7 linked regions of the Homo sapiens genome follow. The protein of the gene in region 2 purifies or fractionates together with the protein of the main gene of each other region. This does not show direct contact. Each region holds a gene or a part of one and is shown on either strand. Other genes may lie near its edges. The genes, in order: IQSEC1, MELTF, SLC25A13, LOXL2, TSEN2, ZNF195 and MADD.

Region 1 (3,500 bases), about 180 Mb from region 2:
ACTTTCCCAACAGTTGCACTGTAGCCACTATCAGAGCTGCCCAACTTGATTGCAAAGCGTTCTCATGCTTAGTTGCCTCATGGGGTCTCACCAACTGCTGTAAAATGTGATACTGTCGATCCCGTTTTACAGAAGAGGAAACTGAGGCTCAGAGAGGGGAAGGAACTTGACTGGGGTCACACAGCTGTTTCCTGCCGTACATTTGGCAGTGGTGTCCCTTCCCCAGCATGCCACATGTCAAATCGGGACAGACTTGCTCCAGCGGCCCTGTGCATGGCACAGCCAGGCTATCCTCAGCCTAGTGGAGCCCTGCCGGCGGGCCCCCACCCCCACCCCACTGTCCTCACTCCCTAGCCTCCATTTTCGCCACTTCCACTCTCTGGGCCCCTGGTGTGCACCCAAGGGAGCTTTATGGAATCGAGACTCTGTCCCGGTCAGGGCTCAGTCCATCGTGAAGGTGGCACACTGGATGGGATAAAGGATGACAACAAAAGCAGGAGAAGATTTCTTAACCCAATGGGGGAACATCAGGAGGCTTCCAAGAATCAGACCCTGAATCAAACTTGCTAACACCTGAGGTCATTGCTGTACTGGCAGCTTCATGAATGGTGTCTGAATGAAGGATGGCCCTCAATTCTGTAACTACAGCATCCTTTTCATCATCTCTGCAAGGGGCCCCTCTGTCCTCATGGGCATGTCACATCCTGTCACTTGAACACAGGAAGTGAGGCTGTGAGGAGTTTGTGGTGTGTGAGATGTGGGCTGCTTGGCCAGGCCAGTGGAGCACTCGCCTACCCATGCCTGTTCAATCATTCATTCACTGCCTGGAACTGTCCCGACCCCTCTCTTCCTTCTGTTTGGGGGACATGATGACCTGCCGGCCCCCGCAGGAGGCAGTGGTCTCCCTCTGGTGGGATGCCCTGACCTGCTGCTTGCAGTGGGGCCTTCATGAAGGAAGCGAAGCCCTGGTGGGTCTCCCCTAGACAGAAGAAGGGACACTGGTGGGACTGGGCCTGGAACATTCCACACACACACACACCTCCAAGAAACTTGTGCATTGAGCCTTCACCATTATCACCTTGGCTGGGTCAGTTCTGCAGGCACAGTTATCAGCATCTGCTGGACAGTGGGCCTGGGCTGGATGCCAGGGAAGAGCAGCCCCAGCCCACCGAGAGAGATGCAGGGAGGGAACCGGAGGCCCAGTCTTCACTCAAGCACGTGTGATGACCGGTAGCCTTTCTTGCCATGCAGTGATCACTATTAAAAATGGTTATTATGAATGACCCACACAGCACTGGGCTATTTTCCAAGAATGCTGTAGCATCTATCCACCCTTTACAGCCCCAGGAAGCCACTGGGCAGGTCCTGGTTATAACTCAGAAAGACTGGGATATGCAGCCAAGGCCGCATAACCAGGCCTGGGCCTTCACTTCCCTGCCTTCAGCTAGTGTTCATGGTGCACCTGCTGTATGTCCAGCTCAGTGCTGGGAACCACTGAGAGGGTGCTGCTCTCAGGGGATACTGCAGGGGAGAAGGACACAGAGAAATGAAGAAGATAGAGAGCCCAATGGGAATGGATTGAGTGAACTGTGTGGCCACTCAGGAAGTGAGGAGGGCTTCCTGGAGGAGGTGACCTTTGAACAGAAATCTAAATGATTAGGAGGAACTATCCAGGAGAAGAGTGGGGGCCCCGGGTGCAGGGGACAGCAAGTGCAGAGGCCCTGGTGAGGGCATGCTTGACAGGATTGGGCCACAGAGGGAGGATGGTGTTGCTGGAGCAGAGTGGACCAAGAAGAGAGGTAAAGGGGCTGGGGCTGTTCATGGAGGCCCTGGAGTAAAGAGTCACATCGTCATGCTGGAAGCTAAAGATATGAAGAAAAGACTGGGGGTTAAAGAGGTTGGGGAACTGCATTGGGGCCTCCCAACCATGAGGGGGTGTCATGAGCCTGGGGCCTGAAAATTCAGAGGCCTGGCCACTGCCTCTGCCCCTTTGCAAGGCCAGGGCCCAGGCCTGCTCCCCGTTGTATACCCAAAGCTGGCATGGCCTGGCATGATGTTGGGACTTAGAGACCCTGTCTGGGGTGAATTTTAGAGACTGAGAGGAACAGACTTTTCTGGTAGTTGCTGGACAGGCAGGGCAACAAGTAGCGTCTGCTTAGGCAAGCACCTACCTCTGACCCACCTGCCACCATCTTCCACCAAAGGATCCGTGAAGGACAGGTCCGACATCCACATCCTCCCTGGGCCTCAGAGGAAGCGTAAGGCCTGGATTGGCCCCAGCCCCGGGGCAGGACCCTGCTGGGCCTTGGTCAGCCCATGGTCAGCATCTTTTCCCAAGTGCCCCAAGCACAGGCACTGGGCCTAAGCCTCCTGCTCTATGTGGTGGGGCTGATACTCCCCTTCCAGGGTTTGCCTGCGGGCCAGCAAGCAGGCTGGGCCCCAAGCTCAACAAGTGTCACGCCATCCTTGTCCCTCCCTGGAGGCCCTTTGTTGAAGCCCCCCAAGGCCCCCTGTGCCCCTAAAGGACCTGGCACCATCTCCTCAGGGCCCTGGCCTGCCTCCTTGCACTGACTCACTTGGTCTTTAAGAATAACAACAAAAGTGCCTTATCTTGTTGAATCCCACAACTCTGGCAGGGTGGTTGTGTGCCATCCTGTTTTCCAGGGAAGTGCCTTGCTCAGGGTCACAGCCAGTGAGTCTGCCTGACTCCAGACCCTGCTCCTCCCCAGCCAGATCTGTGTGCCCTTGTGGGTGGGGCCAGTGGGCACCCAGTGCACAGAGATGGGATGAGGAAGGGAAGGAGGGTGGTCAGGGGGCCCAGGTGTTGGGGGACCTGACGCCTTACCCTGAGCAGGTTCCAGATCTCTTGGCCGCAAGGCTCTGTCCCTCCCCACCCCTTCCCCACTGCATGCACTACCTGGAATGTGTTGGTCACTGCCACTGTGGCATGGCTGCCCCCAGCCTGCTTGTCCTGGGTGCTGAGGGTACTTGTCCCACAGTGGCTGGGAGCCCCCCACCCAATGCCTGTGGACCAGACCAGTTTTGTCACCACCAGTGGGGGCTTAGGAGGCGTTGCTCCTGGGTGCTGGCTAAGCTGCTCCCAGGCTTACCTTAGAGCCTGCTGCTTTCCCCCAAAAGCCTACTGACGACACAGCCCCCGTCTGCCCTTCCCGCTCTTTCCAGCCTGTTGGATGGCTCCTGTTCTCTCAAATCTCACTCTTACCCCCAGGAGGCTCCCTGCAGGCAGAGTGGATGAAAATATCCTGCCCCTTGGTCTCTGAGGCCCTGGCCCACCTGGGGCCTTACAGAGCAGGACAAGGAGGCTCCACTCCAGCTCTGTCCCTGCCTCACTATGTGACCCTGGGCAGGCTGCTTGCCCTCTCTGGGCCTCTGACCTCATCTGGAAAGTTCCTGGTTATGCTGCGACACACAGGGGACTGGGAGTGGGAGGAGTGGTGTCTGCCAGGCACAGCAGCTCCAGGCATGCTGGCTCATTCACA
Region 2 (3,500 bases):
TTGCCTTTTAAATCAGAAAGTCCATCACGAAGGCAAACATGGACCAGATCTGAGGAGGAAGAAGGCGAGTGCCCTGCACACGAGGAAGCACGTAGGACGATGCGCTCTAGTGCTGGGCAAGCCTGGAAATGGGCTCCCGTTCACAGGCCCCAGGACGAGTCTGACAAAGGAGAATTTGGAAAACGGGCAAAGAGTAGGGATATGTTGGGTTAAGAATCAGCTCTTTCAAACTTGGGGTTTTTTTTGAGATGGGGGTCTCACCATGTTGCCCAGGCTGGTCTCAAACCCCCAGCCTCAACTGATCCTCGCATCTCAGCCTCCTGAGTAGCTGGGATGACAGGCGTGCACCTGGCAGCTTTTTCAAAGTGTTGATGGTAATCTGAGGCAATCTAAGGGAGTCATTTTTTAAGTGACTTTATACAGAAAGATTGGTAAGAGCCAAGGGGTAGAAGTGGCATAAATGTCTAAAGCAGGGAAGTGACAGGACTTTCATTGTTCTTGGCTGAGGAGAAGCGGGAGTGGCTGATGGAAGCACCTAAATGATGCCTTTGTCTGTGGGAAGGCAAATGATGCCCCAGAGCTCTAACCAAAGGTTTTGCAGCCGCCGAAAAACAGGAAAGTTGGGAAGCGGGGGTAGGACTACACTGAATCATTAACAGTGCTGTAAACTACCATGTGGCCATTAACAATGACCTTTAGGGAGTTTTCCTAAACGATCACTCTGGTGCGGGTGTTTGGTTTTGTTTTAAAATAGCTTTGCAGTGAAAGCTTTCATGACCATACAAATTATCTTTTTTCTTCCTATTTCCTTGTAGAGGTTTTTTTCCTCCTTGTCTTAAGGTCATAAAAATATTGTTATGTGGGACCATCTGTGGTTTAATTATAGTCCTTAATATTCGTCTTCTCAATATCCCTGTTTGGTGTTAATAGTTACTCTTGCAAATTTTCTTTTCTATCGAGAAACAAATGAACTTATGGAAAGTTTCCAATACTGTGGAAAAATACTCTACCAAATAGGATGCAAAATTGCCTGTCAACTATGTCCTTAACCAGGTTAAAAGCGGTCAAAAGGAGGCTGGGCACGGTGCCTCACGCCTGTAATCCCAGCACTTTGGGAGGCCGAGGCTGGCAGATCATGAGGTCAGGGGTTCAAGACCGGCCTGGCCAACATGGTGAAACCCCATCTCTAGGAAAAATACAAAAATTAGCCAGGCATCTTGGTGCACACCTGTAATCTGAGCTACTCGGGAGGCTGAGGCAGAAGAATAACTTGAACCTGGGAGGCGGAGGTTGCAGTGAGCCAAGATCATGCCACTGCACTCCAGCCTGAGCGACAGAGTAAGACTCCATCTCAAAAAGAGAAAAAAGGCCAGGTGTGGAGGCTCACGCCTGTAATCCCAGCACTTTGGGAGGCCGAGGTGGGTGGATCACGAGGTCAGGAGATCAAGACCATCCTGGCTAACACAGTAAAACCCCATCTCTAATAAAAAAAAATACAAAAAATTAGCCGGGCGTGGTGGCGGGCACCTGTGGTCCCAGCTACTCGGGAGGCTGAGGCAGGAGAATGGCGTGAACCCGGAAGGTGGAGGTTGCAGTGAGCCGAGATCGTGCCACTGCACTCCAGCCTGGGCGAAAGGGCCAGACTCCGTCTCAAAAAGAAAAAGGGGGGGTGAGGTCAAAAGACAGGAAATAAAATAGAAAAAAGGACTTGAAAGAAATCCATCGCAATATGAATAGTTGGAGTTATGGGAGATCCCCCGTCCTCTCTAGTCCTGGGGTGGGTAGATTCCTTCGGGGTTTGTTTCCACCGTGGCCCCTGCTCCGGGAGCCCTGCCCCCTGCCCCCTGCTCAGAGCCAAACGCAGTGCCTCATGGCAGCCGCAAGCTCATCCTAGACTCTTGGTACATTCATCTGTCTCACCCAAAGCCTTTCTTTTTTTTTGAGACAGAGTTTCGCTCTGTCGCCCAGGCTGGAGTGCAGTGGCGTGATCTCGGCTCACTGCAAGCTCCGCCTCCCAGGTTCACACCATTCTCCTGCCTCAGCCTCCCCAGTAGCTGGGATTACAGGCGCCCGCCACCACGCCCAGCTAATTTTTTGTATTTTTAGTAGAGATGGGGTTTCACCGTGTTAGCCAGGATGGTCTTGATCTCCTGACCTCGTGATCCGCCCACCTCGGCCTCCCAAAGTGCTGGGATTACAGGCGTGAGCCACCACGCCCGGCCAGCCTTTCTTATTTTCTTACTTTTTTTATCTTGAATAGTTATTTATAAGTATTGTATTACTGTCAGATACCTCCAATTCACTTTAGCAATAGAAATTGGTGAGAGCTAGAAAATGAGAGTAACGAGATAGAGTCTGTGTAGGTACCTGGAGTTGGGTGCGGCCACCAAGCTCTGCCACCTTCTGAATGCTGGGTTCTCATGTCCATGACACCCAGCCACCCCTCAGATTCCCTCTCCTGGGCCTTCCCCGCCACCCGCCCCAACCCCTTTCGGAGCTGGCTCAGCCCAGGCTTCCTGCTTCCCAGGGAAGACGCTTCCCTCCTGGGGCCAGGCCCTGCTGTCACAGGACTTCGAGCTGCTGTGCCGGGATGGTAGCCGGGCCGATGTCACCGAGTGGAGGCAGTGCCATCTGGCCCGGGTGCCTGCTCACGCCGTGGTGGTCCGGGCCGACACAGATGGGGGCCTCATCTTCCGGCTGCTCAACGAAGGCCAGGTGGGCTCAGGGTCCCCCAACCACCTGCACAGCTTCCTAGATGGTGCCGGGCCTTGTGGTCGCTCAGCAGGGTGGGACCAGGAGGGGCAGGACCCAGAGACTGTCCTTGGGACGGACCCCAGCATCGGGCCAGGTCAGAGTGAGGAACCGACTATGCTGGCTGGCCAGAAGGAGGGCTGGCCAGGAGAGGGGGGCCCAGAGGAGGGGGACCCAGGGATTCAGGCACCCTCAGAAGAAGCTCCTGAGACTTGTGTCTCTGAGAGCTAAAACCAAAACATATGAGCAAATAAACCAAGTAACAAAACCAGCGCCTTTCAAAGCACACCATTAATTACATGTGGCGAATAAGGTTTGGCTAAAACCGCCGCTTGTGACAGCAATAGACTTCTGACTGCTGGTGCCCCAGGCTCAGTTAGTTTTGCCCTATCCAGGCTGCTACCACCAGCCCCACGGCGTGTCCTCAGGACCGTCCCATGCCTGGCCACAGCCATGTGTCCAAACAGCTGAGTGTGAGGAGGCCAAATGAACTCAGAGTAGACCCAGAACTGACAGGGCCCAGGGGAAGGAGGCCGCAGATCAGGGGAGGCGCCGCAGAAGAGGGAGGCCTCACCTGGCCCTCAGGGTGGGTGCCTGGTCTGAGGTCGGGGAAGAAGGAGGTAGGGGCCAAAGTGGGAGGGAAGGATATGGCCTGTCAGCACCCTCACCACCCTGTACCACACCCCTTGACACACAGCGTCTGTTCAGCCACGAGGGCAGCAGCTTCCAGATGTTCAGCTCTGAGGCCT
Region 3 (3,500 bases), on a different chromosome or scaffold from region 2:
GGAATTTATGTTAACACAATGATCTTTACTCTTTCCTTCCTCAGTCCTGTCCCCTTTTACCAGGAGAGTCCTAGAAATGGAGTCCCAGAAACATTTGTTATTGGTCCAAATTCCCATGAATGCCTTTGCTTTTGGCACTGCTCTAGGCCAGTGATTCCCTACATACTGAAGTCTTCTGGACTGGTATAAAAAACTGCTGATGCCTGGGTCTCCCTCCAGAGATCATGATTGAATTGGACTTGGGTGTGGCCTGAGCCTCAGGATTTTTGAAAGCTTGACAACCACTGTTATTTTGGTGCACATTGCTTCAAGAGACCTGCTGGCTCCTTCTTGGAGTAAGAATGGAATGCAGTGAGATTAAGTTAAAGTCCCTGGTGTGTCAGTTCAAAGGAGGGGTATGTAGGGGTTTCTCCAAATTTCTCTTCTTTCTTGACAGCTTTGTCTTAGTCCTGCCTGGTGTCTCCAGGGTGCTTAGGCATCAAGTTTATACAGTTTTGTGATAATCCTGGAATAGAGGTTTTAATCCCAAACTTGACTGAAAGCTCCATTTGTCTCCTGCAGAGTCTCAGTGGTTTTTTGTGATCAGAGAAGGTGCTGGAGGAGGGAAGCATTACAAAGAGCAAACCTGGTCTCAGAGCCCTCTCCTGGGCTAACCTCATCCAGGGCCATGTGGTGCCAGTGTTCCCTGGCTTAGGTCATATGGCTTCACAGCAAATAGAGGGTTGGAAAGGTGTGGGGAGAGTTGAAAGGTGATATGTAGCGTAAAAAAGTCAGGGAGCAGGTCTTTTTTGGATATTGAGTTCTTTTAGAAGATTGTCCGAGGAGCTCTGACTCCTCTGTGCTTTGGTCTCTTAGACCTTTAGTCCCATGACCAGTCTCTGCTTTTGATGAATTCTTAGAGGGAACCATTCCTCCCTTTGTTCTCCACTATGTGTGAGGATTATCTATTATGGCATTCCTGCTGAGCGCTTCCTCCTCTCTGGTTGGCATTTGCTGCCTCATAAACACCTACAGATTTCCTCATAAGACTCTGTGGGTTTGCCTTAGGGTGGACCTTGCAACAGAGGAATGTGTGACGCTGAGACATGTGTTGGTTCTGCTTGGAGGTAAGGAGGGGGATATGCCTTTGTGTAGTGATACAATTCCTTTAGCAAAGTATTTAACAGCTACTGAGCAAACTCTATTTTCATGGCCTGTTTAACCAGACAGACCCTCTAATTGGGTGAAATGAACTAAATTAAATGTCCTTCTCCTAAAAGTCACCAGTAACCTCAGTTCTAAACCTGTTGGCTTGTCCTCATTTCTGGCCTCACATGACCCTGTGTCCTACCCTTTCTTTCTCGCCATCTGCTTTCATGATGTCCCCTCTCATTATTGGCCTCTAGCATCTCATATTACCCCTTTATTCTCCTTTGCAGGCTTCTTCTTCTTCTTCCTTCTTCTTCGTCCTTCATCCTTTCTCCTCCTTCCTTCCTCCTTCTTCCTCCTCCTTCTCCTTCCTTCTTCTTTCTTCTTTCGTCTTCTTTCTTCCCAGCAAAGATATATTTTTATTTTAGTGTTTAGCAGCATGACATATGCATATAGAATGATAGTACACTTTACCCTAATCTTCAAAACAGAATGTACTAGTTTACCAATGAGGAATTTTGGCCAAAAATGTAGTGTTTTTCCCTTCCCTGTACAGGTCAGGTATATGTAGGTCCAGCACTAATGCTGCACCTTTTGAGAAGCATTACTTTAGCAAAAATCTAGAAATCTTTCACTTTTTCTGAATCTAACAAAGGGTCTTACTTTCTTTTTTTTTAAATGTACATTTTAAAAAATAATTTCAACTTTTATTTTAGATTCCGGAGGTACATGTACAGATTTGTTACCTGGATATATTGCATGATGCTGAGGCTTGGGGTACAGTTGACCCCATCACCCAGGTACTGAGCATAGTACCCAATAATTAGTTTTTCAACCCTTGTTCCCCTCCCTCCTCCCTCTAGTAGTCCCCAGTGTCTATTGTTGCCATCTTTATGTCCATGAGTACCCATTGTTTAGCTCCCACTTATAAGTGAGAACATGTGATATTTGGTTTTCTGTTCCTGCATTAATTCACTTAGGATCATAGCCTCCAGCTGCATCCATGTTGTTGCAAAGGACATGATTTTGTTCTTTTTATATCTGCAAGGTATTCCACGGTGGATATATACCACATTTTCTTTATGCAATTCACCATTGATGGGCACCTAGGTTGGTTTCCTGTCTTTGCTACTGTGAATAGTGCTGTGCCTTGTGGGCTTCTCTTCATTCTGCCTGGACACCTGGAAGGTTAGTGTCCCCCAAGGCTGTGCCTGAGATTGTCTCCTCCCTCCAGTTCCTGCCGCACTACCTGCCCCCTTAATGGGTATTGGCTCCTTAACACTCCTCAGCCTGGGTGGCTGTCTCAAGCTCTAGCCCTGCACTTTTAGCTGTTTAGTTTGAGCTGGAAGACTCAACTTGTCTGTCTCAAAGATATTTCAAACTCTGCTGACCTAGAACTCACCAGTTCTTATAACTGAATCCATCTTTTTGGTCATTCCTGACTTCATCCTGCAGCTTCACTTTCCTGATAAAGTTTCTAGTTAGTTCAATTAAGTACCTGTTATGGGCAGATAGGAGAGACACCATCAGCCTGAATTGGATGTGGCAAAAGAGGTGGATCAGTGAAACCCTTCTACGGCCATGGAGCATGTATGTCCTATCTTCTCTGTTCAAATTCAGGGCCTCTTTATTTTGTAGCTGTACCATTGCTGTAGCTCCCACTGATCCCCTTGCTTTTGATCTCATCCCTACACCTTCCTCTCCATTCTGTCCAGACTGCCAAAGGACTTTTCTAAGATTGGCTCTTGTTGCCATGATAATAGCACTACCGTGTTCATGGGTACAGTACTTAGCAGCTTTAAAAAGTGCATTCAAGGGCATAAGTGACGACGACTGTTTGTCAGTGCCTACACTGTGCTGGGATTCCAAAAACAGGTAAGCTACTAGATTTGTTTTCAAGAAGCTCAAAGTCTTCAGGGATTAATATAACCAGATAATATAAAGACCCAAGCTTCATTATTTGATCTTTATAATCATCTACAAGGTAGCAGGGAACGTGTTGATAACCTCATTTGTCAGATAAAGAAACCTAAGGCTCAAAAAGGTTATGCAAATAATAATAATAATATTAGCATATGTTTATATAACACTTGTAAAAGCCGGACACTGTTCCAAGCACTTTATATCTACTAATGCAATCTTCATAACAATCCTATGACATGTAAGTGCTCTCACCTTCATAATATACATCGAGAAACTCATTTGTACAGAGTAGTTAAGTTCTTTGAGGTACAGAGAGATTACATAACTTGCCCAAGATCACATGGCTTGTAAATAGGAGAGCTATGATTTCAACACAGGCAGCCTGGCTCCAGAGCCCAAGCACATAACCAGTGTGCTGCATTGCCCTCTTTAATTTATCTTGCTATGCA
Region 4 (3,500 bases), on a different chromosome or scaffold from region 2:
TAACTGAAGAGTTGTCAAAGAGGACTCACAGCAGAGGAAAAGAGGAATTCAGGGTCTTGCTAAACAAGAAGGTAACCTTGAGGAGCCCTTGAGTCATTCCAGAAGGTGGCGGTAGGCAGGAGAGGGGGTTTGTCCCAGCTCAAGAATCAGAAGTAGAAGCCCTGGGGAGGGGTCTCTTGCCTTGTTGACCAGCATGCCATCCTCCGCAGCCGCCCCTGACCTGGTCCTCAATGCGGAGATGGTGCAGCAGACCACCTACCTGGAGGACCGGCCCATGTTCATGCTGCAGTGTGCCATGGAGGAGAACTGCCTCTCGGCCTCAGCCGCGCAGACCGACCCCACCACGGGCTACCGCCGGCTCCTGCGCTTCTCCTCCCAGATCCACAACAATGGCCAGTCCGACTTCCGGCCCAAGAACGGCCGCCACGCGTGGATCTGGCACGACTGTCACAGGTAGGCCTGGCTGGCCACCCTCCCCACTAAGCTGCCCGGCGGACATCCTGCAGGCCTCAGATGGGAGTTGAGAGTTGCCAGGGTCACTTAGAGCCAAGAGGCTGCATGGCCTGGGGATAGGATCCTCCTAAGTGGGGGGCTTGCATCTGCCACACTGGCTGTCAGATTTCCCGAAGCCATTCTCCACTCCAAGTTCCCCTGGCCTGCCACCCTTCTTCCTGCCTCCAATGCTTCTAACATCAGGAAACACACTTTGTTTTGAGCGCCCATACCCTCCTCGTTGACCTTCAGCCCATGGTTTCCAAGTGTGTCCACAGGTTTGTGTGCTGCCAGGTACTCCAGGCTGTGCAGTTGCTGGACTCTAAATTCCTTTAGAAATATTCCCAGCCTGGCGCGGTGGCTCACGCCTGTAATCCCAGCACTTTGGGAGGCCGAGGCGGGCGGATCACGAGGTCAGGAGATCAAGCCCATTCTGGCTAACACGGTGAAACCCCGTCTCTACTAAAAATACGAAAATTAGCCGGGCATGGTGGTGGATGCCTATAGCCTCAGCTACTTGGGAGGCTGAGGCAGGAGAATGGCGTGAACCCAGGAGGCGGAGGTTGCTGTGAGCTGAGATCACGCCACCACACTCCAGCATAGGCGACAGAGCCAGGCTCTGTCTCAAAAAAAAAAAATATATATATATATATATATTCCACGTACTGGTATGTATTTTAAATACCTCTAGGAAGACAATGGGTGTGGAGACTGAAGTCTAGGCCCAAGAGTCCTGAGACCTGGTCTCTAAACGCAGCCGTGCCTCTAGCGAGCTGCATGATGTCAGGTCAGCTGGGCGGCATCACCTGGGACCTCGCCTGTCCCTTCCAGCTCTGTCAGTCTGTGGACCTGATCCCAGCGCTGCAAATCCCAGACAAGGACAGAAGAACAGGGTGAAATCCTACAGCCAGACCTGGCTAGAGCCACCACAAGCCATCTGCTCATCCTCTTACCTTCCCTCTGTTTCTTTGTTTTCCCTTTTTTGCCTGGACTCTTAATCTAATCCAGAGCCTGCTGTCTCTGTATGTCCAGGGATTTTTTTGCTCAGACCTGAACTGGGTGGGTAGAGGGAAGAGAAGCAGGCACACCCTTGGAAAGGAAGGGAGACAGGCCTCTACCACTAAATAAAGCAGGAAGCCCCCGAGGGGCTACAGGCGTGGCCTAGTCATTGCCCTTCTCCACACTTGGATGGGCCATCTATACAACCTGGCCTTTGCACCACATCCCTGCTTCTCAAAGTGAGGTCCTTGGACCAGAGGTATCTGCCACCACCTGAGAGCCTGGGACCTGCTCAATCCCAGGGCCCGTGGCAGACCGACACATCAGCATCTGCATTTGGCAGGATTCTCAGGTGACCGTGTGCACACTGCAGTGTGAGAAGCCGTTGTCTAGATGATGTTGAGGCTCCGCTGCAGCTCCGGAATGTGGTCATCACTGTTATGGGCAGAACTAACATGTCCTGGCCCCTTCTAAGTGTCAGGCCTAGGGAACCTTCGTTCTCCTAGAAAAGGACACAGAGGCTTGGAGTTGTCTCTTGCCCAAGATAATGCTAGGAGTTGCAGAGAGCAGGAATCCCGGCTCGGGCCTGTCTGACTCCAAACTACATGCTCTTTCTTTTTTGTCTGCTGACTCTTCATCAGAAATCTATCTTTGGCTTTTTTTTTTTTTTTTTTTTCATATCGCAGCTGATGACCTAGTCACATTCAAATCAGTTTTGGGATAGTTGTTCCACTAGTCTCACAAGAAAGGACTATGGTAGAATTCAGGGGTGCTGATTTTCCATTCAAACAATTGAATATTCTGAACGTCCTAATTAGCCCAAGAAGGTGTGGTCTTTATAGAGAAGCAGGCTAGTCTTCTTCAGGTTGTAAGTCAGTAGAGTTAAAGTCATGACGGTTTTGGTGCTTGGCTCCCTTCGGGGAACGTGTGGGTGGAAGCCCTGGGCGGCGGGGGCTGACGCTGCCTATGGGTCTATAAGCAGAAGATAATTGCATCCCAGCCCTGCATATGGCAGCCCACCCACAGATTACATGGTAGGAACCTCCCTGTGCCATACACTTACGCTCCAAGGACTTGGTCTCCTCTAAGAATAGGCACATGGTGACATCCTGGAAATGTTCTTCTGATCTGGAGACCCTGGCTCCCTGCCTGCTCCCCAACCCCCTGCTCCCCCACTTTTCCTGTGGTCTATTTTATTTCTTTGTTTACAGATGTTCTAGTCAGTGGCTTGGGAGGGGATGGGAGGGAAGGAAGGACATGCTGAGCACATGTACCTTCTGGTCTCCCCCTCCTGGTCCACAGCTGAGAAACAATGACCATAAGATCCTAGGGACCTTAAGAGGAGTACCTCGAGCTCCAGGTGACTTCTCCAGGTGCTGTGGGAGGAACAGGATCCTGGCCTCAAACATCTGTTGGGTTCCTTTTGGAAGCTGATGAGAGCTGGCCCTTCCTCTCCTCAAAACAAATATTTCTAGAAGTTTAATAGCCTATGTCAGCAGATTTGCAGACACTCTGAAGGCCATCTGGAGCCAGGCTTGAGAACCCTGGCTCAAATTAGTGGGAATGGGAAAAAATGCCATTTCCAGTTTAATTGACGCTACCTCGGGGAAGAGAGCTCTGTTCTTTGAAAGCCCTTGGCTGAAACACAAAGATTGGCCCCCTTGGAAATTTCCTCGAAAACCAGACCTGGAGGAAAGTGCCCCCGGAGTTATTCTGTCTCATGTGCACTGTGCCCTGGCCGATGGTCTCCATGCCTCTCTCTCCTGCCTCTTGTGGGGCCACCGCTGCTCAACTGGCACGATGTGCCACGCTCTGACAGGACAAAGCATGGGGCACAGATGCACAACAGGCTCCACAGGCCAAGGGGCTTGGCTCTCCCACCTCGGGGGAATCCCAGGAGAGGAGCTAGGAGTTGGAGAAGCAGGGCGTGTGGGCTCCAGCTCAGATGACAGTCCTCCGGGTCAGGGATGGCATTGCTGCAAAGAGGAGAGACTCCCTTTCACTCCACC
Region 5 (2,340 bases), about 180 Mb from region 2:
CGATGTGGTGGGTGGCCTTCCTTGTTAACCACCACCACCACCAAACAGGGCTCTATTTCTGACTGCATGCAATTTTTAGGATAGCGCCATTTCAGCTGAGATAGTGATCTCAGGTCCAGTCCTCCACGTGCATGACTGGTAGTGATGCACACCCGCCAACATCTCTGAGCTTCAAACACCCCTCTGTGGGTCCCTCCTCCTGAATTCACAAGGCTGCTGCAGGGATAAATACACAGGCATCTGCCGCATCTCAACTCCCACTCTCCAAATGTTTGCTATCACGGTTTGCAAAATATTTTACCCCATATTGGCTATCCAAATTAAATATAACAAACATGTAAGGGTTTGCAGCAATATCATTCAAGTAGTGTCTGGACCCATTAAGAGGATACAGCTCAGGCTACCACCTTAGCCTAAGTATTCTACCACCGAAGAGCAAGTATTCCCCCTTCCCATTTCCCCACCACCCACATTTTTTTTTTTTTTTTTTTTTTTTTTTGAGACAGGACCTTGCTCTATTGCTCAGGCTGGATTGCAGTGGCACAATCTCCGCTCACTGCAACCTCTTCCTCCTGGGCTCAAGCGATCCTCCTACCTTAGTCTCCTGAGCAGCTGGAATTACAGGCATGTGCTACAATGCTTGGATAATTTTTGTTAGTAGAGAGGAGGTTTCACCATGTTGCCCAAGCTGGTCTCCAACTCCTGGGCTCAAGCGATCCATGCGCCTTGGCCTCCCAAGGCCTCCCAAGTGCTGGGATTATAGGTATGGGCCACCATGCCCAGCCACCCATCTCCCTCCTCTTGCCACCAGATGCCCTGAGGCAACTTAAGTCTTCATGACTTTCTCACCAATTACAAAAAGGCTTTATTATATTTTGCCAAATGTTAATCGCTTTCATTATGTCTCCAAACATTATTTCACCACTCATTTTTATAACAAGTGCAGTGAAGATATGCTTATCGAATATTGTACAATACTGTTGTGTTCTGTAACACTCTTTCGGGAACAGCTTAGATGTAGGTAACAAGAGATGCCTGCGTATGAAAGTGCTTCATAAACTGTACTGTATAAATGTAAACTACTACCATTTTCAGGTAAAATCAGAGAATAAATGTCTCTTGTTGGAAGTGTCCTCTCAGGACTCCTCTAGTCCAATCTCCCCAGTGAGTGGATGAGGGAAAAGACTGACGCCAGAGGCAGGAGGCTCTGGATTGGAGAGTTAGAGGCCAACGCAAGTATAGAATCTGCAGTCCTAGCACAGGGATCTTTCTCCTCCCTTGTGTAATTTATCTTTAAAAACACTGATAGTTTTCTGGTGCTGGGAGCACCATGCCCTTTAAAACTTATGAATTAATGGACGATTACAACAAAAAGAACTTTTTACCTAGCCCTCAATAAATAGTTGTTGGTGAAATTAGAAATTTGAGGTTGAATTGTTAAAGATCGTCTTGGTCACTCCTCTCTCGTGAAGAAACCCATCGACTCAGAATCACCTCCTACAACCAATAAAAAAAAAGACCATTTCTTAAAACAGAAATGTAAGACCATTCTGACACCACAGCTGACACCACAGCTACATTTCACAAAGGGCGGTCTATATAATGATGATACTGTTCCCACCTTTAGAACAGAAACATCTGGAGAAAATGAATGTAACAATATAAACCTTACAAGCATACAGTATCTACTTTCACCAGGCAAAGATTTTAACAGCTAAGCTTGCCTCTGCTGTGGTATTCTACTAGCACATTTCAGAAACAGGTGGGCGGGATGAAAGCTAGCATTTTACATTAGAGCTAGGTCTGTGATGGCATTGCTGTAACGGGGCCAGCTACTGAGAAGGGAGAAATGAGGTTGATGAGCATTTTATGAGAAACTAGCCTAGTGGAGATAAGTGGGACCAACTGAAGGGAAGACGTGCTGGGGCCCTGGAGACCGACCAGCAGGTCTGCAGGGGCAGGGTGGTGTGAAAAGAAGACAGGACGACAACAAAGACATACTGGATGTTGGGAGGAGCCAATGGCAACGTTAAGGCTCTACACACAGAGGGAGGGAATGCAGAAACACGGACACACACTAGACAACTCGGCCAGACCAGAGAGAAACAAGCCAAGATGACAGGAGGCGCCTTGGTTCAATACAGAAGCCCAGAAGCAGGAACAAGTCAACAGGGACACCTCTGGTCTCTGGGAATGAGACCTGTGAGAAGTCCTGGCCTGGCCAGGGGGTCACAGGCCACCTGTAAGAGAGCAGTTTCAGCTGAGTGATGGGGACATCACAGGTAATAAAGTGGGGAATTAAGGAATAGAGGAAGTCAGCATAGATTTCGTGTCCAATGG
Region 6 (3,500 bases), on a different chromosome or scaffold from region 2:
ATTTATTTGTCAGAACCTGGGAGATATTTGTCAGGACCTGGGAAATATTTGTCAGAACCTGGGAGATATTTGTCAGAACCTGGGAGATATTTATTTGTCTCTTGAACTTTGCATAACACTAAGGTTTCGGTATGATTTGATTCAGATTATAATTGACCTTTTGGCCAATATCACACCAGTAATATGTCCTTCTCTGTGCATTGGCACGTGATAAAAATCTGTCCTATTACAGTTGATATTAGTTTTATTCAGTTGTTTAAAGAGCTCCCTGACAGATTTTCCATTGTGGAGTTTATTTTTTTCTCTTTTAAGTACCTTGAGGAGATTTACTAATTAATGTGCATAAATAATCACATTTAATCTGAAAGGTTTTGCTTCTTAGATTCTTTTTGCATATGCCTTGCTTTAGAAGATGAAGAATCTCATCTCTCTTTATGGTTTAGAAAAACTGGGATAAACCCAAGCTTGCCACTTACAGGATTTTTGACAAAATATTGTCCTTGGGCCCAAAGGACTGGCATCACTGGTGAGCGCGTTAGAAATTCGGAAACTCAGCCTTGACCTCCGATTTCCTGAAGCAAAATCTGCACACTAGTTTATTGGACACATGAAAATTGGAGAGGCAGCTTCTAACTCACCATGACTTTTCTGCCTGCGAAATATACACAGCTTATTCATGTGACGTAAATGTAGCACTCAAAAATGGACATGCCTTTGTTGATGCCCTTAATGTTATACTTGTTATCAACCAGAAAAGTATTGTATATACACTGCTTATGTGGCTCTCAGGCAATTCTCTTTCCTCAGAGTTAGAGAGTATTCTTCTGCTAAGAATTACCTTATTGTATAATTTCAGTCACTTGTGTAAGTCAGAACCAGTTCTCTTCACTCGCTCATTTCACCTCGAATCAAGTATTTGTTATTGTTGTTGTTTCTTCTTCAGACTCTGTTGACGTTCAGGGATGTGGCCATAGAATTCTCCCTGGAGGAGTGGAAATGCCTGGACCTCGCTCAGCAGAATTTGTACAGGGATGTGATGTTGGAGAACTACAGAAACTTGTTCTCCGTTGGTGAGGATAACTTCAATACGTAGTTCCTCCTATGCCCTAAAGAGTTCCTTTCGTTCCTCTGCGGAATGTTTTTTGGGAGTTTCTGCGTTGCATGAATGAGTTTCAGATCCCTGCTTTTAAGAAAAACATGGGGAATAGTTGATGTAAAAAAAAAAAAAATCTTCAAAATGTGGTTCATCTTGACATAAACCTTCCTTTTTTTTCAGCTGATCTGTATCTTTCACTCTAGTGACAATTCCAGAAATTCAGTGGCATGAAATATTGTTGCCCACAACTTAAAGTCAAATTTCCACCACCAATTTTTTATGTCAGCAGTACTGAGTGGTGAAACTAAGAACCCACAGATTTAAAATACTTACTGAATATTCTAAAGGTGATGTCAGGAAGCATAATTTTGGGATTAATTTTCTAGAATCTTATATAATGTTCACTCTACTAAGCACAGTACAAGGTTGATAATTGGAGAATTTCAGCAAGAGTAATGTCACTTTTTTCTAATAAAACAGGTCTCACTGTCTGTAAGCCAGGCCTGATCACCTGCCTGGAGCAACGAAAAGAGCCCTGGAATGTGAAGAGACAGGAGGCAGCAGACGGACATCCAGGTGGGTGGGAATGAACGAAGCAGGTAACCCAGGTGAGAGGTCCAGAGGTCGAGGAGGAAGCCAGACCTTAAAATGTGGTTTGAGAAGCTCTGCCCTAGTGGAGATGGTTTCTGAGAGCCTGGGTGTCTTTCTCTTGCTGTACCCTAGGAGCGTCTTCTGTCTCATTCTCTCAAATTTTGTATAGACTCTGCTTCCTGTTTAGTGATCTTCCTTTATAAAGGTTACAGTAAAAATCAGAGTCCTCCTCCTGACGAGTAAGGGCCTGTGTGGTCTCATGGCGTGCTCCGCCACTGCTTTTGGGAACATGCCTGTACCTGCCTGTTTTTGAGGAACTCTGTTAAATGTTTTTTGATTTCCTTTGCATCATGTCTGAAGTGTGCGAGAGGCGTGGTGATGGTGATTGGTTCAGAAATCCCAGAAGTCCCGTAAACAGATGTTGTATGCTTTCTGCTTTATGATTTCGTATCCTACAGAGGTTTCAAATGGGAGTCTACAGAAATGTATACTCAGCAGTTTTCTCCGAACACTAGGCATCTGCCCAAATATGAGATAATCTAATGTTATTTTACTTCAACATTTTATTTTATTTTTTTTAGTATGAGCTGAGGTTGGTCATTTAAACTTTATATTCCCTAACTCCCAACTGTAATAGTTATAATATTATCATTTTATAATTTCTTCTTTTTTAGTATGAGGCTTATCAGGACTCTGTCATTCATATGTATGTATGTGTGCATATGTATATATGTGTGTATATATGTGTGTATATATGTGTGTGTATATATCATATATGTGTGTATATATAATATATCAACATATCCTTTTGAAATGATAGGATTTCATTCTTTTTTATGCTGGAGTAATATTCTGTTGTCTATTTAAATCATATTTTCTTTATCCATTCATGTATATATACACACACATATATACAGTGTGTCTATGTGGGCATATGTGTAACAGATTATTTTAGAAATAAAAATTGTGTATATATTGTGTACAATGTAATAATTTGATATGTGTATACGTTGTGAAATAATTAGTGCAATCACTTCAAGGAACAAATCTATCACTTCACGTAATTACCTTTTCTTGTAGTGAGAACAGTTAATGTCTACCGTTGGCAAACTTTAAGCATACAAAAGATTATTAATAGTATTCGTGAAGCTACTCATTAGATTCCCCAAACTTACTCATCTTACAACTGAAAGTTTGTACCTTTTGAACAACAGCTCATTTTCCCCAACTCCAGGCCCTGGCAACTGCCATTGTCCTCTGCTCCTGTGAGTTCAGCCACGACAGATTCCACGTCTGAGGGGGAACGTGCAGTCTCTGTCTTTGGGGCCTGGCTGAGTTTATTTAGCAGGATGTCCTTCAGGGTCATCCACGTGGTTGAATGACAGGATTTCATTCCTTTTTTATGGCTGAGTAATATTCTATTGTCTATTTATATCACATTTTCTTTATCCATTCAGCATCCGCAAACGTTTAGCTTGTCTTTATATCTTGACAATTGTGAATAATGCTGCAGTGAACATGAGGGAGCAGATAATTCTTCAAGATGCTGCTTTTATTCCCTTCAGTTATTATATACACAGAAGTGTGATTGCTGCGTTGCAGGGTAGGTTTATCTTTTTCTAACTTTTAAATAACGCCCCCCCACCCTGGTTTTCATAATGACTCTACCAGTTGAGAACTCTGAGCGTTCAGAATTGTTTTTTCTTTACATCCTTATCAACATTGTTAGTAGATTGGCGCAAAAGTAAGAGTATTTCTTACTATTTAGAAGGCAAAAACCACAATTACTTTTGCACAGCCCTAATATGTTACT
Region 7 (3,500 bases), on a different chromosome or scaffold from region 2:
TGTAGGAAGTTATTACTGTTACTATCCCCATCTTACCTGTGAGGAATTGTGGACACAGATGAACTTGCTCAGGGTGGCACAGCTCAGTAATGGCAGAGCTGGAATCTAAACTCAGGCTGACTTTAGACCTGTGCCCTTCACCATTGTGCTGTAATGTCTCCCGTAACATTTGAAGCCTTAAGAACGGATAACTGGCTGCGCATGGTGGCTCACGTCTGTAATCCCAGCACTTTGGGAGGCCGAGGCGGGCGGATCATGAAGTCAGGAGATCAAGACTATCCTTGCTAACACGGTGAAACCCCGTCTCTACTTAAAAAAATATATAAAAAATTAGCCGGGCATGGTGGTGGGTGCCTGTAGTCCCAGCTACTCGAGAGGCTGAGGCAGGAGAATGGCGTGAACCTGGGAGGCGGAGCTTGCAGTGAGACGGGATTGCGCCACTGCACTCCAGCCTGGGCGACAGAGCGAGATCCGTCTCAAAAAGAAGAACAGATAACTTCACCTGAAAGAGAATGTTGAACAAGAAGGTGTCAAAGATATTTGCTTTTTAATTTATATCATCCTGTATTGTATCATTTTTATGTAATAAGCATTGTTCATGTGTCACTTGTGTAATTAATTTTTAAAAATATTTTTATAGAAAAAGGGTAGACCCAGGATTAGAAAGTGCATCAGCTCCATTTTTCTCCTTGGTTAAGTCTGTCATGATCTCCTACCTTTGTGTTTGTCAACAAAGATGATTCCTGAGCTTGTAAGATGGAGGCATGAGATCTCCTCCAAATACTTTAAGTCCGTAGAGCACATAAGAGGTAATAAATAACTGGGCCGGGCGCGGTGGCTCACGCCTGTAATCCCAGCACTTTGGGAGGCCAAGACGGGTGTATCACTTGAGGTCAGGAGTTCGAGACCAGCCTGGCCAACATGGTGAAACCCTGTCTCTACTAAAAATACAAAAATTAGCTGAGCATGGTGATGTGTGCCTGTAATCTCAGCTACTCGGGAGGCTGAGGCAGGAGAATCATTTTAACCCACAAGGCAGAGGTTGCAGTGAGTCGAGATTGCACCACTGCACTCCAGCCTGGGCAACAGAGTGGGACTCCATCTCAAAAAAAAAAAAAAAAAATTATAGCCAATGTGATGGTGTGCACCTGTAGTCCCTGCTACTTTGGGGGCTGAGGCAGGAAGAACCTGGCTGGTCGAGGCTGCAGTGAGCTGAGATGGCGCCACTGCAGTCAAGCCTGGGGTACAAAGTGAGACCCTGTCTCAAAAAAAAAAAAAAGAGGTAATAAATAACTGATTGATTTGTGCCTCCTCCCTTATACATCGGTTCCTTCTAATGACTCCATCTCTTCCAACAATCCTTGTAGCAGGCAGCATGTCAGTAGTTCTGTTTTGTGTCTTCACCTAGGGAAACCATGAGCGTAAGGCAGAAAACCTGACCATGGGGATGCCCCAGGACCACCTTTCCCTGTAGGAAACAGTCTAGGGAGAGGCTGTCAGAGACAGGAACCACTGAGCCGCTTTGTGCACTTCTCCAGGTGTGCGATGACTGTGTGGTGTTGCGTAGTAACATCGGAACAGTGTATGAGCGCTGGTGGTACGAGAAGCTCATCAACATGACCTACTGTCCCAAGACGAAGGTGTTGTGCTTGTGGCGTAGAAATGGCTCTGAGACCCAGCTCAACAAGTTCTATACTAAAAAGGTACGCAGGATCTGTGTTTGGGTTGGGGCTAGTAGGCATTGAAGACCAAATAGTGAATTTCTCTTTGGGAAGTTAAAATTCCAAAACACACATCTGGAGCCACACTTCTGTCTCCAGCTGTTGGGTGGAGTACCTAAAGCTGTCTCTGTCAAGCCAACTAGGCCTAATAGTAGTCACAATCGGTATTAACCAACCATATCTAGCATTCCTACACATCTGTACCCATGCCTTCTTTAAAGCCATACTATTCATATGCTCCGGATCTATCATTCATAACCTCAACAATGAATAAGACATCCGAAAAATAGGAGGACTACTTAAAATTTTACCCCTCACTTCAACCTCCAGCCTTCAGTGGCCATTATAGAGCAGTGGGTGGGGAACCCTGGACAGCCCTCATGATGGGACCACTCTCCCCCTGTGCCACAGTGTCGGGAGCTGTACTACTGTGTGAAGGACAGCATGGAGCGCGCTGCCGCCCGACAGCAAAGCATCAAACCCGGTGAGGAGAGTTTTTCCTGAGAGTGTCTTCCCTGTTTCTACCAGTCCTTCTGAGTGTCAGGGGCCTGGCAGGGAAGTCAGGGGTGGGATTCCCCACCTCACCAGTGAGCTGATAGCCCCCTCCCTCACCACAGGACCTGAATTGGGTGGCGAGTTCCCTGTGCAGGACCTGAAGACTGGTGAGGGTGGCCTGCTGCAGGTGACCCTGGAAGGGATCAACCTCAAATTCATGCACAATCAGGTAGGTGCGAGCGGCAGCACGAGGCTCCCTGTCGTTCCATCTGTAAGAAGGACCAATGTCCAAGCCCCCAGTACTTCCCCAGCAAGCATGAGAGAGGGCCCTCTGGAGCTAGAGGGAGAACTGGAGCAGCTGGACCCAGGAAAGAAACCCCAGGGGAGGGCACAGTGACGTTGGCGACCACCTGGCGCTGTGAAGGTGCACCAGGGAGCCCGTGGGGGAGGCTGGGCAGGAGCGAGGCCAGGTGGCCACGCTGCCCCATCCGTTGGACTCCACACAGTGTGAGTGGGAGCGTCTCACTTGGCCCTTCCCCTGCAGTGTCTCTGCCTTCCTCTATTCCCAGGATATGCTTCTGCTTGGTGGTTTTGCTTTGAGAGTCTAGACTGGCCGATCTCCTTGTGTCTTTCTGGTGTGCGTGCAGCTTGCGTGTGCGTGCGTGCGTGCCTGCGTGCTTGTGTGTAAGTAGCTTGTATCTGTCCTCTCTGGAGTGTGTTTATTTGCCTTTTTCTTCTGCGGATTCTTCTTCCTGTTCTTTTCCTTCCTCTGAGTGTTCCCACTCTGTCCCCTGCTCCACAGGCCCCATTCCCTTTCTTTTGATTGGGGAGCACTTGTGGATACATCTTTCCCTCATTGTAATTCCACCATAGGAGCTGACTTTTTTTTTTCTCTCTTGGTCTTTTAACACAGTGTTACCTTTTTCTCTCAGTGGACATTCCTTAAGCTAATTCCTTTCTGAGGCCAGCGCATCATCCCAGGTCCGTTCACAGCTCTGACTCCTCACACAAGTGCCTTCCCTCCTCTTTCCCTGATGTCCGGGTTCCTCTCCCTGAGGCTCTGAGCCAGACCCAAATGTGTGAAGCCCCACAGACCCTGGCCAGGCCGCAGACCCTCAGGGGAGGTGGATGCCTGACTGACGTGGCTGTCTCCCTCCCTCCGCTAGCCGTTGTAGCTCTCTTTCAGGAACGTAGCTGGGCAGCTTTGGTTTAACAGGAAATGGCTGCGCAGGCTGCCAGCAGCCCCTTAGTATATTTTCAATTTAGGACTTAGGGCAGTAGCCA

Evidence for each region.
Region 1: the proteins of MELTF (region 2) and IQSEC1 purify together in Homo sapiens (affinity purification with mass spectrometry; one large-scale study listed by BioGRID and IntAct). This does not show direct contact.
Region 3: the proteins of MELTF (region 2) and SLC25A13 purify together in Homo sapiens (affinity purification with mass spectrometry; one large-scale study listed by BioGRID and IntAct). This does not show direct contact.
Region 4: the proteins of MELTF (region 2) and LOXL2 purify together in Homo sapiens (affinity purification with mass spectrometry; one large-scale study listed by BioGRID and IntAct). This does not show direct contact.
Region 5: the proteins of MELTF (region 2) and TSEN2 purify together in Homo sapiens (affinity purification with mass spectrometry; one large-scale study listed by BioGRID and IntAct). This does not show direct contact.
Region 6: the proteins of MELTF (region 2) and ZNF195 purify together in Homo sapiens (affinity purification with mass spectrometry; one large-scale study listed by BioGRID and IntAct). This does not show direct contact.
Region 7: the proteins of MELTF (region 2) and MADD purify together in Homo sapiens (affinity purification with mass spectrometry; one large-scale study listed by BioGRID and IntAct). This does not show direct contact.

Annotation. Positions count from the first base shown.
Region 1 is NC_000003.12:13,066,930-13,070,429, reverse strand, and holds part of IQSEC1 (IQ motif and SEC7 domain-containing protein 1), read left to right. Parts: intron 1-3,500. UniProt on the Homo sapiens protein: Guanine nucleotide exchange factor for ARF1 and ARF6. Guanine nucleotide exchange factor activity is enhanced by lipid binding. Accelerates GTP binding by ARFs of all three classes.
Region 2 is NC_000003.12:197,016,318-197,019,817, reverse strand, and holds part of MELTF (melanotransferrin isoform 1 preproprotein), read left to right. Parts: intron 1-16; coding exon of another isoform or gene 17-213; exon of another isoform or gene 214-865; intron 866-2,527; coding exon 2,528-2,715; intron 2,716-3,448; coding exon 3,449-3,500. UniProt on the Homo sapiens protein: Involved in iron cellular uptake. Seems to be internalized and then recycled back to the cell membrane. Binds a single atom of iron per subunit. Could also bind zinc.
Region 3 is NC_000007.14:96,312,099-96,315,598, reverse strand, and holds part of SLC25A13 (electrogenic aspartate/glutamate antiporter SLC25A13, mitochondrial), read left to right. Parts: intron 1-3,500. UniProt on the Homo sapiens protein: Mitochondrial electrogenic aspartate/glutamate antiporter that favors efflux of aspartate and entry of glutamate and proton within the mitochondria as part of the malate-aspartate shuttle.
Region 4 is NC_000008.11:23,306,621-23,310,120, reverse strand, and holds part of LOXL2 (lysyl oxidase homolog 2 precursor), read left to right. Parts: intron 1-209; coding exon 210-453; intron 454-3,500. UniProt on the Homo sapiens protein: Mediates the post-translational oxidative deamination of lysine residues on target proteins leading to the formation of deaminated lysine (allysine).
Region 5 is NC_000003.12:12,531,819-12,534,158, reverse strand, and holds the end of TSEN2 (tRNA-splicing endonuclease subunit Sen2), read right to left. Parts: intron 1,498-2,340; coding exon 1,438-1,497; 3' UTR 501-1,437; downstream 1-500.
Region 6 is NC_000011.10:3,369,147-3,372,646, reverse strand, and holds part of ZNF195 (zinc finger protein 195), read left to right. Parts: intron 1-943; coding exon 944-1,070; intron 1,071-1,576; coding exon 1,577-1,672; intron 1,673-3,500. UniProt on the Homo sapiens protein: May be involved in transcriptional regulation.
Region 7 is NC_000011.10:47,322,133-47,325,632, forward strand, and holds part of MADD (MAP kinase-activating death domain protein), read left to right. Parts: intron 1-1,538; coding exon 1,539-1,703; intron 1,704-2,132; coding exon 2,133-2,205; intron 2,206-2,338; coding exon 2,339-2,445; intron 2,446-3,129; exon of another isoform or gene 3,130-3,201; intron 3,202-3,500. UniProt on the Homo sapiens protein: Guanyl-nucleotide exchange factor that regulates small GTPases of the Rab family. Converts GDP-bound inactive form of RAB27A and RAB27B to the GTP-bound active forms.